Linked DNA regions of Homo sapiens. The protein of the gene in region 1 interacts with the protein of each later gene in a pairwise test. Each region holds a gene or a part of one and is shown in the gene's direction. Other genes may lie near its edges. The genes, in order: KIR3DL3 and OLFM4.

Evidence for each region.
Region 2: the proteins of KIR3DL3 (region 1) and OLFM4 interact in a two-hybrid assay, tested with the Homo sapiens proteins (one large-scale study listed by BioGRID).

Annotation. Positions count from the first base shown.
Region 1 is NC_000019.10:54,727,200-54,731,028, forward strand, and holds part of KIR3DL3 (killer cell immunoglobulin-like receptor 3DL3 precursor), read left to right. Parts: intron 1-411; coding exon 412-711; intron 712-2,293; coding exon 2,294-2,587; intron 2,588-3,829.
Region 2 is NC_000013.11:53,038,754-53,042,582, forward strand, and holds part of OLFM4 (olfactomedin-4 precursor), read left to right. Parts: intron 1-3,156; coding exon 3,157-3,369; intron 3,370-3,829. UniProt on the Homo sapiens protein: May promote proliferation of pancreatic cancer cells by favoring the transition from the S to G2/M phase. In myeloid leukemic cell lines, inhibits cell growth and induces cell differentiation and apoptosis.

The DNA of each region.
Region 1 (3,829 bases):
ACTGATGCCTGCCTTACTGATGAGTTCGTACCTCCTGCCGGCCTTTCCAATCTGTCCAAAAGAGATTGATTCAGGCTGCTAAGAGCCTGGACATGCAGCCTGTCATGGTTCCTCTTCCACCCCCACATAAACACCAGGAAAGAGATTAGTGGGAAACAGATACAACAGCCTAAGAGGTGACACTGAGCACAGTGGGAAGGGAATCAGGGCTACTAGAGACAGAGAGACAGGGAAGAGGGAGGGAGACAGATGGAGGGACCTGCAACAGGGGTTATGGGCACAAAAGAACACGGAGACACAGACAGGAAGGAGAGAGATAGACACCATGGAGGGGAAGCCTCACTTATTTCAGGTCCCATGAATGGGATGAGAAAGGGAGACGCCTTCTGAACTCACAACCTCTCTTCTTAGGAGTCCACAGAAAACCTTCCCTCCTGGCCCACCCAGGTCCCCTGGTGAAATCAGGAGAGACGGTCATCCTGCAATGTTGGTCAGATGTCAGGTTTGAGCGCTTCCTTCTGCACAGAGAGGGGATCACTGAGGACCCCTTGCGCCTCGTTGGACAGCTCCACGATGCGGGTTCCCAGGTCAACTATTCCATGGGTCCCATGACACCTGCCCTTGCAGGGACCTACAGATGCTTTGGTTCTGTCACTCACTTACCCTATGAGTTGTCGGCTCCCAGTGACCCTCTGGACATCGTGGTCGTAGGTGAGAGAATACAGACCTGCCTCTCACCCTTGCTGGGAGATGGAGTGAATGATCTAGGACTGGAAGCCCCAGGTGGTCATGAGGAAGATGAGTGTGGGGTTCCTATGGAGAGAAAGTGACTTGGTGAGGTCTGTACCAACAAAGGCAGAGAAACAGGAGACACAAGTACAGACCTCATGTCATAACATAGAAGCCAGACACAGGGGCCATACAAGGTGTTAGAAAAAGAGATAAAGAGGTAAAGAAGACACAGAGAGACAGACATATCCCAGAGAGAGGTGTCCTTCTATGCTGACTTTGTTCAGAGACCAGGCACAGGTTAGAAGGTTCCATTCTGTTTTACCTCTACAAAGTGTTCTCTCCCAGGAGAACCCAAAGAGACACATCTATCTGGCCTGAGTTGGGCCATGTGGCCCCAGGCTGGTGGCACCTACAGATGTTGTGTTTATTCTTAAACCTCTGCCTTCCGTGCAGTGGAGCTGTCATCGTCCCAGGACACCATGGCCCCAGGTGAGGGAGCAGAACACCAACCCCTGTATGCTGTGAGTTCCTGGAGTCCCCATACTGGATTCTGAGGCTCATATTCAAATAGCACCACATGTTATAGGATTACTGAGAACAAAAGCCCACAGAGAGACACGGAGTGAAATCAGGGAAATCAAAAAGCAAAGACATGAACACACACACAGAATGAGCCAGAAGAAGGGAATTGAGAGACTCACAGACACATAAAGAGATAGAAAAAGAGGGCAGAGAAGTGGAGCGTATGATGGAAGGAAGCAGAGAAAAGCCCTAAAATCAGAGCCCTGAGGGAGGGGCACAAAGACAGGGAAAGATAAAGATGTGAGGATGGATTGCAGAGACTCCAAAAGGGAACTAGAGAGACTGAGAGGCAGAGAAAGACAAGGAGATGGAGAGAGACAGATGATAGATGGACAGATAGATATAGATAGATGAAAGATAAAAGGTAGATGATAGATAATAGAGAGACAGGTGATAGACAAATAGATGATGAATGACTGATAGATGATATAGATAGACAAGTAGAAAGACAGACAGATGATATATAAATAGATATAGAGAGATAGAAAGACAGATAAACACATGATGATAGATGGATAGATGCATACATACATACATTGATTGATAGATGATAGATAACAGAGAGATAGGTCATAGATACACAGATGATGATAGATGATAGATACATACATAGATAAATGATAGATCGATCAATAGATAATAGATAGAAATATGCAGAAAGTTATGAGCAAGACAGAAAGTGAGAGACTCAGAATTAAAGAAAGAGGAAGATCAAGTCAACCAGTCCAAGGAGGGTCAGAGAGAATAAAATGGTACAAAAAAAGAAAACATAGCTAGGGATGGAGAAGTGAGGTCAGAGACCTAGAGAGACAGAGAAGGTGGAAGGAGGAAATAGACATGAAGAGAGATGGGGGTGGAGGGTGAGAGAGAGAAAGAGAGCATTAAGTCATAGAGCAGGGGAGTGAGTTCTCAGCTCAGGTGTGAGGAGAGCTGTGACAAGGAAGAACCTCCCTGAGGAAACCACCTCTTCTTCTTCCAGGTCTATATGGGAAACCTTCTCTCTCAGCCCAGCCGGGCCCCACGGTTCAGGCAGGAGAGAATGTGACCTTGTCCTGCAGCTCCCGGAGCTTGTTTGACATTTACCATCTATCCAGGGAGGCGGAGGCCGGTGAACTTAGGCTCACTGCAGTGCTGAGGGTCAATGGAACATTCCAGGCCAACTTCCCTCTGGGCCCTGTGACCCACGGAGGGAACTACAGATGCTTCGGCTCTTTCCGTGCCCTGCCCCATGCGTGGTCAGACCCGAGTGACCCACTGCCCGTTTCTGTCACAGGTGAGAAAACACCATGCCTGTCCCATGTCTTGTGATCCTAGAGCCATAGCTGAGGAGCTTCCTGCTGATGATGGAGAGAAGCATGGACAGATGCCGAGACAGAACACACAGCATGGGTGTAAGGGCGGGGTCAGGGCGCAGGATGGCAGACAGGGCACCTCCAAACCCTCCTGTATGGCCTGCAAGGATGCCCTTGATCAGGGTTCCAGGCACCCAGGCAGATGGAGAAAGAGGTCAGAACAGACCCAGAGGAGGGAGACTGGGCTCTGCCTGGGGAGATCAGAGGTTCTCTCAGCCCCTCAACCTTACCCACTTCCCAGAAGCCCATCCTGGCCTGTCACCCACAGAGAGATGTCATCACCAGCAACGCCTACACCCTTTTCTTTTTGTTTGAAGAAATATTTATTGAGGTGAAATATACCTATGTAATTTACCACCTTTACCATTTTTAAGTGTGAAGTCTACTGTTCATAAATACATTTATAGGCTGGGCACGGTGGCTCACGGTTGTAATCCCAACACTTTGAGAGGCCAAGGCAGGTGGATCATTTGAGATCAGGGGCTCAAGACCACCCTGGCCAACATGGGGAAAATCCATCTGTACTAAAAATACAAAATAATAATTATAATGATAATAATTAGCCGAGCATGGTGGCACATGCCTGTAGTCCCAGCTACTTGGTAGGGTTGGGCAGGAGTTGCACTTAATTGCAGGAGGCGGAGGTTGCAGTGAGCTGAGATCATGCCACTGCACTGCAGCCTGGGCAACAGAGAGAGACACTCTCTCAAAATTAATTAATTAATTAATTAGTATTCTTTTTTTTTTACCCTCCACCCTTCCCTTCCTGGCCTCTGGTAGCCACCATTCTACTCTCTACCTTTGTGAGATCCACCTTTTAGCTCCTGCATATGAGTGAGAAATGGAAATACTTGTAATGACCTCCAGTTCCATTCATGTGGCTGTAAATGACAGGATGTTACTCTTTCTATGGATGAGTTGTCCCTATTGTGTGTGTGTACCACATTCTCTCCATCCATTCACCCACTGATGGGCAGGTAGGTTGATCCACATCTTGGCTACTGTGAACACTGCTGGAACAGTCATGGGAGTGCAGATGTCACTTCGATACGCTGATGTCCTTTCCTTTGGGTTTACACCCAGTCATGGAATTGCTAGATCCTCTGGAAGTGTCTTTTTACATTTTGTTTTATGGTTTTTGTTTTTGTTTTTGTTTTTTTTAG
Region 2 (3,829 bases), on another chromosome or scaffold:
AGGAGCTGACATGTGGTCAGCATTGTCCACGCATTCCCAAAGCTACAGATTCATATATGTGAAAAGTTCATATGAATGATTTACTTAAATTAGTAAAGTTCACACTCTGAAGTCTTTCTGGCCCATCCCCAAGCTCTTTTGTGTCTTCTCTAACTCCATGGATGATTGCCATTTTCCTGAACACCACTGAGCATCCTTTAAGTGTCAGCTGAAGAACCTTGAGTTTTTTCCTCAAATGGATCTTTACAGACCCTTCATTTTGTCTGCACCAGGGCAGGCACACCACACATTTTTATAGGTAACAAACTCCAGAATATGCCTTGCTTTTTTTTGTGAAAATCTAGGAGAACCACATTTTATTTAGCAGAGATGACAGTTGAATCACTCATTTTTGTAGAACAACAGCTGCGATGTGCCACCAAAATGTTCCAGAGAAGCTGAGGGTGTTTCATTTGTTCCAAGAGCTGGCAAGGCCAAATGCCAACAAGCATATTTATTTCTCAAACTTCCATTTCTGTAATGGATTGGCACTTTATTTATTTTTATCATAGTCAAGGTTTTATGCCTGAGTTTTGTAGACACTGGAACCTGGCAGCCCTATATCTGCAGTGCACTTCTCAGGGGGACTTGTTAGGTTTTATATATAGTGAGCCCTCCATAGCCTTGGTTCCGCATCTGCAGATATAACCAAACTCAGATTGAAAAATTTCACGGAAAAAAACTAATAAAAATAACCATGTAACAACAGGAACTATACAAATAAAAAACAATACAACAATGATTTATATAGCATTTACATTGTTTTAGGTATTATAAGTAATCTAGACTTGATTTAAAGTATTTGGGAGGATGTGTGTAGATTGTAGGCAAATACTGTACCATTTTCTGTCAGAGTCTTAAGCATCCTTGAATTTTGTTATTCTTGGGAGGTTCTGAAACCAATCCACCATGGATACTAAGAGGTGGCCGTATATATGTTTTAACCTCCCTATCCACCAAAATATCACCAGCTTTGTCATCCTCCGAGTTATGGTACATCCAATGGCAGTGAGCATCAGTTGCCCGAGGAGATACACTAGCAGTGCCAAGGACTGTTTTTTCGACTTTCATTAAAATCCTTTTTGCCTGAAGCCCTAGCCCTTCAGGTCTGTGGTCTATGAGTCTACTTTAATTTGCACAATGGGGTTAAGTGGAAGGGCTGAAATGACAGAAGTTAGGATTGCTTTTGGTATAAGAAGGATTAAAGGCCAACATCTGGCTCTAAATTCATCCAGGCACTGTGGATCAGCTACTTGATATTAGTGTAGTTTTGGGAAAAGTATCACTTCAGTTCAAATTTTTAAAAAGCATATAAAGCCAGCAACTTATTTAATGAGCAGGTCCTTAAAAAAGCCATGGCATTTTCTTTAGAGATCAGACACAGAAAGAACCACCAACTGTGTTTATTAAAATATCCACTTGGATATTCCAATTATACACTAAACTGCCAAGGGAATTTTTGGAAGTATTTTAACTTAATGATCAGACATTCAAATATATGCAACAAATCTGTAATTTAAAGGTCTGATTGCAATAATCAGTTCTTGGAATAAATGTGGGTGCACTTAATGAAATGTGTACTCTACAGGGCACACACACTCACATATTGTGTAGTAGGTTGGATCTCTATGCCACTTTGTAAAAGGCAGAGGGGATCAAAACTAATTGTATATGGCGATCAAAGAAGGAATTCGGCATAGCGCATTTCTCCCTTCTCCAGAAAATACTTAGATGTAGAGCCATGTTTCTAAATGGAAGGAGGGTGGTGTTGGCCGTGGCAACGATTTTGTCCCCAGGGAACATTTAGCAATGCCCAGAGACATTTTTGGTTATCATAACTGGAGAGTGGTTGGATGCAACTGGCATGAAGAAGCCAGGGATGCTGCTTAATATTGTGTAATTCACAGCACAACCCCCACAAGAAATGACAATCCAGTCCCAAATGCTAACAGTGCTGAGGTTGAGAAACAATTAGAGTAAGTGTGTTGAAGGGAGGAGAGATGGCAAGAGACTATGATACAAACCAGTTTAGTTTGGGGAGTTAATGTCTTCAAACATTAAAATGGAGATTAAGAAAAAAGGGCTCAATATCACTTGATCATTAGAGAAATGCAAATCAAAGCCATAGTAAGATACCATCTCATACCAGTCCAGAATGGCTATCATTAAAAAGTAAAAAAATAACAGATGCTGGTGAGATGGCAGAGGAAAGGGAACATTTATACACTGTTGGTGGGAGTGTAAATTAGTTCAGCCATTGTGGAAAGCAGTGTGGTGACTCGAAGAACTAAAAAGAACTATTATTCAACCTAGCAATCCCTTTACTGGGTATATGCCCAAAGGAATATAAATTGTTCTACCATAAAGATACATGGGCGTGTGTGTACATTGCAGTACTATTCACAATAGCAAAGACATGAAATCAACCTAAATGCTCATCAATGGTACACTGGATAAAGAAAATATGGGCCATATACACCATGGAATACTTTGCAACCATAAGAAAGAATGAGATCATGTTCTTTGTAGGAACATGGATAGAGAGCTGGAAGCCATTCTCCGAAGCAAATTAACACAAGAACAGAAAACCAAATACCACATGTTCTCACATATAAATGAGAGCTAAATGATGAGAACACATGGACACAAAGAGGAGAACAACAGAAGCGTACTTGAGGGTGGAGGGTGAAAGGAGGGAGAGGAACAACAACAAAAAAATCTATTGGGTGCTAGGTTTAGTACCTGCGAGACAAAATAACCTTTACAACAAACCCCCATGACATGAGTTTACCTATATAACAAACCTGGGTATATACCCCTGAGCCTAAAACCTTTTTAAAAAATGGAGATTAAAATATACCTGCAAATGATGATGCTGAAGCAAAATTATGTTTAGCCTAGCAAAGTATAAAATCTACCTCCCTTCAATTGGAGTAATAAGTTCTTTGTATATGGATAGATTTTAAAAATCTAGTTAAATGTATTTTTGATCTATTTATTTACAAAACACAATGATTGGCAAGAATCAAATAGTTCTCAACTCAAGGGCTCGGTAGTGGAAGAAGATGGTGTGATACTACTCAGGGAATTGGCTTGAACCTTTTGATTTTCTTTCAGGTGAGGGAATATGTCCAATTAATTAGTGTGTATGAAAAGAAACTGTTAAACCTAACTGTCCGAATTGACATCATGGAGAAGGATACCATTTCTTACACTGAACTGGACTTCGAGCTGATCAAGGTAGAAGTGAAGGAGATGGAAAAACTGGTCATACAGCTGAAGGAGAGTTTTGGTGGAAGCTCAGAAATTGTTGACCAGCTGGAGGTGGAGGTAAGGAGTGAACTCACTTCTTGGTAAATTAATAATAAACTCCCTTCAGTGACTGTAAGCAAGTACTAGTACCAGGAAGTGAAACTATCTCTTCCAACTTCTAATTCTCTACTGTCTCATGGCCACATGGCATATCACTATGTTCTGTTTTGGATAAGGGCATGTGTTTGAATAGTAAGTTAAGCACATTGGGAATGTGCTGACTTAGGAGCAGATGTTGTCTAATGGTCAGAATCCTGCCCCAGAATAAAATGCCCTTTCAACTTCTCTGAAAAGGAGCTGGCATAAAGTTGAACAACGGTTCATGGCCAAGCTATATGAGGTGTCTTCTCTGCTCTAGATTTATCCTCATGGAACTAGAAATCCACAATATACCTGATTGTGGTAAAATTGCTAGGTTTGTTTCTCCTTTTGAATAACCTGGAATCCTTCTCTGCAAACTGGAAACCCCCTTTAAGAA